2 separate regions of the Homo sapiens genome follow, and region 1 is linked to region 2. The links come from fine-mapping of genetic effects on gene expression. A gene starts in region 2. The other region holds a variant in brackets. All regions are shown on one strand. Distances are between the middles of the regions. Region 1 holds the start of PPP1R15A (protein phosphatase 1 regulatory subunit 15A). Region 2 holds the start of HSD17B14 (hydroxysteroid 17-beta dehydrogenase 14).

Evidence for each region.
Region 1: its variant is fine-mapped to the expression of HSD17B14 in stomach (GTEx, PIP 0.91).

What each region holds. Positions count from the first base shown.
Region 1 is chr19:48,870,163-48,875,520 of GRCh38, reverse strand. PPP1R15A (protein phosphatase 1 regulatory subunit 15A) reads right to left here and starts at 3,100. Exons shown (of 3, transcript NM_014330.5): 1 at 2,870-3,100; 2 at 623-2,296. The coding sequence starts at 2,287. RefSeq lists enhancers at 1-344, 555-604, 1,094-1,706, 1,813-1,862, 1,707-2,317 and 5 more and cis regulatory regions at 633-1,153, 1,533-2,033, 2,193-2,693, 2,880-3,453. The variant GT/T (reference allele first, on the strand shown) is at 2,505.
Region 2 is chr19:48,833,529-48,838,894 of GRCh38, reverse strand. It overlaps HSD17B14 (hydroxysteroid 17-beta dehydrogenase 14), which reads left to right and starts at 2,404. Exons shown (of 9, transcript NM_016246.3): 1 at 2,404-2,571; 2 at 3,052-3,090; 3 at 4,537-4,619. The coding sequence starts at 2,484. PLEKHA4 (pleckstrin homology domain containing A4) reads left to right here. Exons shown (of 20, transcript NM_020904.3): 19 at 766-878; 20 at 1,344-1,798. The coding sequence ends at 1,606. RefSeq lists silencers at 1-37, 1,427-1,496.

The DNA of each region.
Region 1 (5,358 bases), 37 kb before region 2:
AAATTAGTTATTACACAAAAATGCTTTCTATCTGGCTAGTCACTTGCCTGTCACTGTCACGGGATTCTCTATCTATCTGACTCACTGAAGGAAGAGGTGGTTTCCTGGGGCTGCTGTGAGCCACAGCTGCTCCCTCCTCCCCCAGGGGCCTGGCCTCTTACAAGGGATTGCGTGACAGCGTACACAGCCTTCTCCATGGAGATGACATGCAACCCTCTGCAACATACAGGGACCCAGAAGTCTCGGCCCCCAGCCCCCTTTCTTTCTAAGACTCAAGAATCTGGGCTCTCAGCCAGATGTGGTAGCTCACGCCTGTAATCCCAGCACTTTGGGAGGCTGAGATGGGTGGATCACGTGATGTCAGGAGTTTGAGACCAGCCTGGCCAACATGGCAAAACCCCCGTCTCTACTAAAAATACAAAAAAAATTAGCTGGGTGTGGTGTCATGCGCCTGTAATCCCAGATACTCTGGAGGCTGAGGCACGAGAATCGCCTGAACTTGGGCGGCAGAGGTTGGCAGTGAGCCAAGATCATGCCGCTGCACTCCAGCCTGGGTGACAGCCCAAGACTCCAACTCAATTAAAAAAAAAAAAAAAATAGAATCTGGGCTCTCAGCACCTACCTTTCTGGCCTTTAGGGGAGTCTCAGGGTCCGGATCATGAGTAGGGGTTTCTGGGCGCTTGAGCCGCCTTTGCAGTCGGAGGGGCAGCCTAGGAGGAGCCCAGGGAGGCGGTGGCTTCTCTCCAGGTACATAGATGGCCACTCGGAAGGGGCAGGGCTCAGCTTCTCCCCAGTCCTCAGCAGCTTCCTCTTCCTCTGTCTCTTTTCCAGGTCGATATCCCCAGCCCCTGAAGTGGGCCCTCTGGTCCGGGTGGGAGGGATGTGGGTCTGACTCAGCTTCTCCCAAGGCTGCTTCTGAATCATCTTCCTTATCCTCACTATCCACATCCTCATCTTCCTCCTCCTCCGTGTCCTCTCCTGGCCGATACACCCAGGCCTTCAAGAAAGCACTTGCAGGGGGTGTGGAAGCAGAAGTCTCAGCTTCTCTTTCATCCTCGGCTGATCCTGTATCACTGTCCTCATCTTCCTCCTCCTCTGTGTCCTCTCCTGGCTGATAGACCCAGGACTTCAAGAAGACACCTGTAGCAGGAGTGGAAGAGGAAGCCTCAGCTTCTCCCTCTTCCTCATCTGATCCAGAGTCACTGTCCTCATCTTCTTCCTCATCTTCCTCTTCCTCTGTGTCCTCTCCTGGCCAATACACCCAGGCCTTCAGGAAGGCACTTGGTGGGGGGATGCAGGGAGGACACTCAGCTTCTCCATCCTTCTCAGCTGCCCCCAAAGCCTTGACCTCACCCTCCTCTTCATCACTGGGTTGGCACCACCAGGACTTGAGCTGGGGCCTCTGGGCTGGGGCTGAGGATTGCGGCCCTGGGGCAGCTTCTCCTTTCCCAGTTTCTTTGTGTGCCTTTTCCTCCTTCTCCTCGGACGCCTCTCCTGAACGATACTCCCAGGACCTGGGGTCGGAGCCTGAAGATCGGGGGGACACGGAGGTCTTCCTGGCTCCTTTACTTCTTTCTGTTCTTTTATCCTCCGTGGCTTGATTCTCTTCCTCCCCTGGGCAAGACACCCAAGTGCTGGGCTTGGATCCTGGAGACAAGGCAGAAGTAGAGGTTCTGTGAGCTTCTTTCTTTACAGCTTCTTCATCGTCCTCCTCCTCCACGGCTGGACAACACTCCCGGTGTGATGGTGGATAAGAGAACTTGTTAACTCCCTCCTCTTCAGCAACTCCCTCTTCCTCGGCTTTCTCCTCCCCTGGGTTCTTATCAGAACCTTGCAGTGTCCTTATCAGAAGGCTGGGAGACAGGGGAGCACGCTGGCCATCTGCAAATTGACTTCCCTGCCCTCTAGGGACACTGGTTGCCTCTCGCTCACCATACATGCCATCATCATCATCCAAAAGTCCCCAGGCTTCAGGAAGGGAACTGCTGGTTTTCAGCCCCAGTGTTTCTCTGTCCTCTCCAGGGCCTCCACTGTCTTCAGCCTCCTCTTCAGGGCGTCTGCCCCAAGGGGTATGGGGGATTGCCAGAGGAGTCCTAGCTTCTCCCTCCAGGCCAGCTTCTACCAGAGCTGCTCCTTTTACTGCTTCCACCAGCCAGGGCTCTAGAGGTCCCAGGCCCCTCAGGCGGCTCCAGGCGCGGCTGAGGAGGCCCATCACTGGGGACAGGAGGAAGAAAGGGTGGGCATCCCTCCACGGGGTAGCCTGATGGGGTGCTTGGCCTGGGGCCATGTGTCTGGGCTGGAAAAGGGGGAGAAAAAAATAAAGTTTAGGGGCCATTTAGAGGATGGCATCCGGGCGTGACTATGAGTCATAGCAACGGAAATAGTAACACAACTATTGTAAATAGCAACGCGAGAGTCCCAAATTCCTTTCTGATCTCGGCCACGCCCATCTCTGTCCCTTGGCTCTGTTCTTATCTCTCAATAGCCAGGAGTCTGAGCCCCTA[GT/T]TCTGCCTTAGATCCAAGGGTCCAAGCCCCCAGCCCTCTCTTTCTTCAGACGCAGAACTCCCAGTCCCAAGAACCAAGAACAAAAGTCTTTACTTGCTTCCCTTGGCGACAAAGTCATAGTCCCTAGCTCTCTCATTCTGCTGAAGATTGACAAATCAAACCCTCACACCCTCCTCCCTCGCAGACTGAAACATTCTGACCCGACCCCCTACTTGGCAGATGATTCCTTCACGGGGGACCCAAGAATCTGGCTTCCAGATCCCTCCTCCCTCAGGCTCAGGACTCCAGGCTCCCAACCCCTTCTCCTTTCTAAATCCGGGCCCCCAGCCCCGTGGGGACCCAGGCGTTCCGACCCCTTACTCACCGGCTGGGAGCTGCGCGTCACCCCGGGGGCAGGAGCGCCGGTTCGGTCTGCCAGAAGCGATCACAGGTCCGGACGGTTAGGGAGGCCAGCGCGTTCATCTCACCCTCAGGCGTCGGGCTCCGAGTAACTCAGAGTATCTCCGGCTGCCTCAAGTGCCGTGGCGACAAGCGGGCGCGGGGTCGTGCAGCGTCTTGCATAAGATCAACAACTGGGATGGGAACCGATAAGAGCAACGAACACAATGGCCACTAGGCTTTTATAGCCTACCGCGCCCGGCGTGCTGACGTCACGAAGAGAGGCGGGGTTTCGAGACCGCAACCCGAAGGGTGGGAAGTGGAAGTAAGACAGGACTTCTCGCGGAGATTCCAGCTTTTGCAACGTCACGGCGGAGTTTCCGAGCGTGACCACGCCCCTCCAACAAACGAACTGTCAATCAAATGCGTGGCCCTGCTTCAACAGCGAGCCAGTTCTCTCTCAGCTCAGGGTCAATGCCTTCCCACCCCAATTTATTTATTTATTTAGTTAGTTATTTTGAGGCGGAGTTTTGCTCTTGTTGCTCAGGCTGGAATGCAAAGGGGCGATCTCGGCTCACCGCAACCTCCGCCTTCGGGGTTCAAGCGATTCTCCTGCCTCAGCATCCCGAGTATCTGGGATTGCAGGCATGTGCCGCCACGCCCGGCTAATTTTGTATTTGTTTAGTAGAGACGTAGTTTCTCCATGTTGGTCAGGCTGGTCTGGAACTCCCGACGTCAGGGGATCCTCCCGCCTTGGCCTCCCAAAGTGCTGGGATTGCAGGCATGTGCCGCCACGCCCGGCTAATTTTGTATTTGTTTAGTAGAGACGTAGTTTCTCCATGTTGGTCAGGCTGGTCTGGAACTCCCGACGTCAGGGGATCCTCCCGCCTTGGCCTCCCAAAGTGCTGGGATTACAGGCGTGAGTCACCGCGCCCGGCCTATTTATTTATTTATTTATTCATTATTTATTTTTCTGAGACGGGATTTCACCATGTTTGCTAGGCTGGTCTCGAACTCCTGACCTCAGGTGTTCTGCCTGCCTTGGCCTCCCAAAGTGCTGGGATTGCAGGCGTGAGCCACCACTCCAGGCCTATTTATTTATTTGTTATTTTTTATTTTTTTATTTTTTTTTGAGATGGAGTCTCGCTCTGTCACCGAGGCTGGAGTGCAATGGCGTGATCTCGGCTCACTGCAACCTCCATCTTCCGGGTTCAAGCGATTCTCCCTCTTCAGCCTCCGAGTAGCTGGGATTACAGGCACGCACTACCACACTCAGCTAATTTTTTGTATTTTTAGTAGAGACAGTGTTTCGCCATGTTGCCCAGGCTGTTCTCGAACTCCTGAGCTCAGGCAGTCTGCCTGCCTCGGCTTCCCAAAGTGTTAGGATTATAGGCGTGAGCTACTGCACCCAGCCTATTTATTTTTTGAGTAGGCGTCTCACTCTGTCGCCCAGGCTGGAGTTCAGTGGCGCCATCTCGGTTCACTGCAACCTCCACCTCCTGGGTTCCAGCGATTCTCCTGCCTGAGCCTCTGGAGTAGCTGGGATTACAGGCATGTGCCACAATGCCTGGGTAATTTTTGTATTTTTAGTAGAGACAGTGTTTCGCCATGTTGACCAGGCAGGTCTTTTTTTTTTTTTTTTTTTTTGAGACGGAGTCTTGCTCTGTCGCCCAGGCTGGAGTGCAGTGGCACGATCTTGGCTCACTGCAAGCTCCTCCTCCCTGGTTCTCGCCATTCTCCTGCCTCAGCCTCCCTAGTAGCTGGGACTACAGGTGCCCACCACCACGCCCGGCTAATTTTTTTTGTATTCTTAGTAGAGACGGGGTTTTTCACCGTGTTAACCAGGATGGTCTCGATCTCCTGACCTTGTGATCCACCCGCCTCGGCCTCCCAAAGTGCTGGGATTACAGGTGTGAGCCACCGCACCCGGCCGACCAGGCTGGTCTTGAACTCCTGACCTCAGGTGATCTGCCCGCCTTGGCTTCCCAAAGTGCTGGAATTACAGTTGTGATCCACTGTGCCTGGCCTCCTACCCCAATTTAGCCCACAGGCCCCAGCCTAGAGTCTCCCATTTTCTTTTTTTTTTCTTTTCTTTCTTTTTTCTTTTTCTTTCTTTTTTTTTTTTTTTTTTTGAGACGGTGTCTCACTCTGTCACCCAGGCTGGAGTGCAATGGCATGATCTTGGCTCACTGCAACCTCCGCCTCCCGGGTTCAAGCAATTCTCCTGCCTCAGCCTCCTGAGTAGTTGGGAGTACAGGAGCTTGCCACCACGCCTGGCTAGAGTCTCCTATTTTCACATGTGGTTGGTTTCCTCCCCGAGTGCGAGGGTGTCATTGTTCCCATTTCACAGATGGGGAAACAGGCTTGGAAATGAAGCCACTTGACCAAGATAGTCACAGCAGGGTCCAGATTCCTTGCAAATGAGAATGAGGATGTAAGCACTATGAGATCAGGCACTTTGCTGGGCTCAATGCT
Region 2 (5,366 bases):
TAACGTATTTTAGAGACACGTGCTAGGAACTACAACTCCCAGAAAGGCACGTGCGGTACCCGGGTCCCCACTGTGCCAGCTGTTTATTTTTTATTTTTATTTTTATTTTTTACTTTTTTTTTTTTTTTGAGACGGAGTCTTGCTCTGTCTCCCAGGCTGGAGTGCAATGGCGTGATCTCAGTTCACTGCAACCTCCGCCTTCTGGGTTCAAATGATTCTCCTTCCTCAGCCTCCCTAGTAGCTGGAATTACAGGCACCCACCACCATGCCTGGCTAACTTTTTTGTATTTTTTGGTAGAGACTGGGTTTCACCATGTTGGCCAGGGTGGTCTCGAACTCCTGACCTCAAGTGATCCGCCCGCCTCGGCCTCCCAAGGTGCTGGGATTACAGGGATAAGCTGTCGCACCTGGCCTGCTTTTTTTTTTTTTTTTTTAATTTTTAATTTTTGTTGGTACATACTAGGTATACATATATTTACGAGATAATTGAGATGTTTTGATACAGGCAGGCAATGTGAAATAAGCACATCATCGGGAATAGGGTATCCATCCCCTTTCAAGGATTTACCCTTTGATGTATAAACAATCTAGTTACACCCTTTAATTTATTTAAAAATGTACAATTAAATTATTATTGACTATAGTCATTCTGTTGTGCTATCTAATAGTAGGTCTTATTCATCCTTTTCTTTTTGTACCAATTAACCATCCCCCACCTCTCCCCCATGTACACACCCCCACCCCCAATCTTCTTTTTTTTTCTAGTCCAAGGAACACCACCCCTTACTTGCCGACTTCCGAAGGTCACCGGGAGCGGGTTCTCAGCCTCTCCCAAGCCCTGGCTACTGAGGCGTCGCAGTGGCACAGAATGATGACAGGTGACTGGCTGGGGATGTTGGACTTCTGGGTTTTAGGGAGGAGAGAGCTGGAGACCTGGAATCCCAGGTCCTGGAGAGGAGGGGTCTGGGGGCCGGTGAGAATTTTTTATCTTGGTGAGTAAAGAGTTGGGCAGGGTTTGGGAGTTTTAGGTCTCAGGCAAGAGGTGACTGGGGTCCGGGACACTTGGGAGGAGGGGAGGAAGAGGTCAGGGGGCGGGGAGAGGGCCGACAACTGAGTCTCAAAGAGGACTGGACTGGCGTATCCAGACTCCTGGATCTGAGGGAGGAGGGGCTGGGGGCCTGGACTCCTGGGTCTGAGGGAGGAGGGGCTGGGGGCCTGGACTCCTGGGTCTGATGGAGGAGGGGCTGGGAATCCGGAGTCCTGGGTCTGAGGGAGGAGGGGCTGGGAATCCGGGGTCCTAGCGCTGAGGTTTGCCATTCTCATGTCCCACTCATCCTCTCCAGGTGGAAATTTGGACTCCCAGGGAGACCCTCTTCCCGGTGTGCCGCTGCCTCCTTCGGACCCCACGCGCCAGGAGACCCCTCCCCCCAGATCTCCCCCGGTGGCTAATTCGGGTTCCACGGGGTTCTCTCGCCGAGGGAGTGGGCGTGGAGGAGGTCCCACCCCCTGGGGGCCCGCGTGGGATGCCGGGATCGCCCCTCCGGTCCTGCCACAAGACGAGGGGGCATGGCCTCTGCGAGTCACTCTGCTACAATCCAGCTTCTAATCCGCCCAAAAGCGGCAGCCAATCGGAGCGCGAGGACGTGGTCTGGAGGTACCGCCGGAGATCTGGGACCACTCAGGGCATCAGGGGGCGTGGTCTGGTCCCCATTGCGGGCCCGGGAGGGGAATGGTTTCTATGGCCAAAGTTTGGTTTTCTCAACACTGTCTAAATTTGGATTAAAACTTTGAACTTTTAGTCAATAGCTTTCTTTCTGTCTGTCTGGGGTTGTGGCACTGGTGTCTCTGAGGGGCAGAGCTGGAGTCGTGGACTCCTGGGTCCTGAGAGAGGAAGGGACAGGGGGCTTGGACTTATAGGTCTCTGGGAAGAAGGGATAGAGAACCTGATCCCTCGGTCTGAGAGTGGAGGGGGCTGGGCCAGGATTCCCGGGTCTGAGGGAGGAAGGGGTGGGACCCTGACTCCTGGGTCTGAGGGAGGAGGGACTGGGAGGCTGGACTCCCGGGTCTGAGGGAGGAGGGGCTGGGACCCTGACTCCTGGGTCTGAGGGAGGAGGGGCTGGGAGGCTGGACTCCCGGGTCTGAGGGAGGAGGGGCTGGGAGGCTGGACTCCCGAGTCTGAGGGAGGAGGGGCTGGGGGCCTGGACTCCCGAGTCTGAGGGAGGAGGGACTGAGGCTTCTGGATTCCTGGGTCTGTGGGAGGAGGGACTGGGGCTCCTGGATTCCTGGGTCTGTGGGAAGAGAGGAGTGTCTGAGGGAGGAGGGGCTGGGGACAAACTTCCAGGTCTCTAGCCTTCCTGGCAACGCCCCCCGAGGCCGGACTTCCAGGATCCAGCCTCTATTGAGGATTTGATGCGACGGCCTCACGGGGCTTTGGAGGTGAAAGAGGCCCAGAGTAGAGAGAGAGAGAGACCGACGTACACGGGATGGCTACGGGAACGCGCTATGCCGGGAAGGTGGTGGTCGTGACCGGGGGCGGGCGCGGCATCGGAGCTGGGATCGTGCGCGCCTTCGGTGAGCCGGGTCTGACTGCTGGGAGCTGTGGAGTGTGAGAAAGGAAGGATGGGGGCGGGGTGATGGGGGCGGAAAATAGGGACTCCAGTACTGCAGCCAGGATTCTGATATTATAAAAGCCAATTTGCAGGCTAAAGTAAGCGTGTGGCGCTGTAGGCTAGGGCTGAGTCTGGCAGGGTCTCCGAAGGCAGTGGCCCCTTTCTCTGGGTCTGTTGGTGTAGCTACAAAACCAGTGGTTTGAGGAATGGCTCTGTCAGTCGTGGAGTTTGCTCCGGAAGCCACGAACGGGGGTTCAGGAGCCTCAGCAGAAACAAGGCAAGGAGAGTATGTGTCAAGGCGTCTGCCCTCTGTCCTATGGGTGATCATGAGACTGGGGTCACGAGGGGAGAGGGAGATCAGCCCCAATCCAGGTGGCCACAAGAGGGCGGCAGAGGCTTTAACCAAGGCTCGGAGAGTAACCTGTTCCCTTCCTATTCTCAGTGAACAGCGGGGCCCGAGTGGTTATCTGCGACAAGGATGGTGAGTGACGGTCCCTCAGCCCTCACCTTGGCCCTTCCTCCCTCAGACCCAGAGGTCCAGACCCCTAGCACCTCCTCCCTCAGACCCCGGAGTCCAGGCCCCCAGGCCCTACTTCCTCAGACCCAGGAGTCCAGACCTCAGCCCCTCCTCCCTCAGACCTAGGAGTCCAGGCCCCCAGCCCCTCTGCCCTCAGACCCAGGAGTCCAGGTCCCCAGCCCCTCCTCCCTCAGACCCAGAAGTCCAGGCTCCGGCACCTCCTCCCTCAGACCCAGGAATCCAAGTCCCCAACCCCTCCTCCTTCAGACCCAGGGGTCCAGGCTCCCAGCCCCTCTTCCCTCAGACCCAGGAGTCCAGGCTCTGGCACCTCCTCCCTCAGACCCAGGAGTCCAGGCCCCCAGGCCCTACTTTCTCAGACCCAGGAGTCCAGACCTCAGCCCCTCCTCCCTCAGACCCAGGAGTCCAGGCTCCCAGCCCCTCCTCCCTCAGACCCAGGAGTCCAGGCCCCCATCCCCTCCTCCCTCAGACCCAGGAGTCCAGGCCCCCAGCCCCTCCTCCCTCAGACCCAGGAGTCCAGGCTCCCAGCACCTCCTCCCTCAGACCCAGGAGTCCAGGCCCCCAGGCCCTACTTCCTCGGACCCAGGAGTCCAGACCTCAGCCCCTCCTCCCTCAGACCCAGGAGTCCAGGCCCCCAGCCCCTCCTCCCTCAGACCCAGGAGTCCAGGCTCCCAGCACCTCCTCCCTCAGACCCAGGAGTCCAGGCCCCCAGGCCCTACTTCCTCGGACCCAGGAGTCCAGACCTCAGCCCCTCCTCCCTCAGACCCAGGAGTCCAGGCCCCCAGCCCCTCCTCCCTCAGACCCAGGAGTCCAGGCTCCCAGCCCTTCCTCCCTCAGACCCAGGAGTCCAGGCCCCCAGGCCCTACTTCCTCGGACCCAGGAGTCCAGACCTCAGCCCCTCCTCCCTCAGACCCAGGAGTCCAGGCCCCCAGCCCCTCCTCCCTCAGACCCAGGAGTCCAGGCTCCCAGCCCCTCCTCCCTCAGACCCAGGAGTCCAGGCTCCCAGCCCCTCCTCCCTCAGACCCAGGAGTCCAGGCTCCCAGCCCTTCCTCCCTCAGACCCAGGAGTCCAGGCCCCCAGGCCCTACTTCCTCGGACCCAGGAGTCCAGGCTCCCAGCCCTTCCTCCCTCAGACCCAGGAGTCCAGGCCCCCAGGCCCTACTTCCTCGGACCCAGGAGTCCAGGCTCCCAGCCCTTCCTCCCTCAGACCCAGGAGTCCAGGCCCCCAGGCCCTACTTCCTCAGACCCAGGAGTCCAGACCTCAGCCCCTCCTCCCTCAGACCCAGGAGTCCAGGCCCCCAGCACCTCCTCCCTCAGACCCAGGAGTCCAAGTCCCCAACCCCTCCTCCCTGAGACCCAGGGGTCCAGGCTCCCAGCTCTTCTCTCCCTGCAGAGTCTGGGGGCCGGGCCCTGGAGCAGGAGCTCCCTGGAGCTGTCTTTATCCTCTGTGATGTGACTCAGGAAGATGATGTGAAGGTAAGCCGAGTTCCTGTTCCTACCCCCATCTCCGCTAATGACCAGTTCTTTGTTCTCCTCCAGCCATTTGCATATGCCTTTCCCTCTACTTTTCCTTCCTCTCCTGGCTCCGCTGGACTCGTCAAAGGTTTCCACCCAGTGTCACTCCACACACAAGGTCTTCTGTGACTGATGGGCAGGTCACATGTTCCTTCTGTCACACCTCTCCAAGGCTCTTAGCACATTTAACATGTGGATGGAAATGAATAAGTCCCTCAAAGTGGGTCAACTGGAACTGATTTTTCTGTCTCTTTTTTTTGTAAGTGTCACTGAGGCTGGAGTGCAGTGGTGTGATCTCGGCTCACTGCAACCTCAGCCTACCGAGTTCAAGCCATTCTCCTATCTCAGCCTCCCGAGTAGCTGGGATTACAGGTGTGCGCCACCATGCCCGGCTAATTTTTTTTTTTTTTAAGACAGAGTTTCGCTCCTGTTGCCCAGGCTGGAGTGCAATGGTGTGATCTCGGCTCACCGCAACCTCTGCCTCCCAGCTTCAAGTGATTCTCCTCTCTCAGCCTCCCGAGTAGCTGAGATTTCAGGCATGTGCCACCACACCTGGCTAATTTTGTATTTTTAGTAGAGACGGTGTTTCTCCATGTTGGTCAGGCTGGTCTCGAACTCCCAACCTCAGATGATCCGCCCGCCTCAGCCTCCCAAAGTGCTGGGATTACAAGCATGAGCCACCGTGTCTGGCTAATTTTTGTAGTTTTA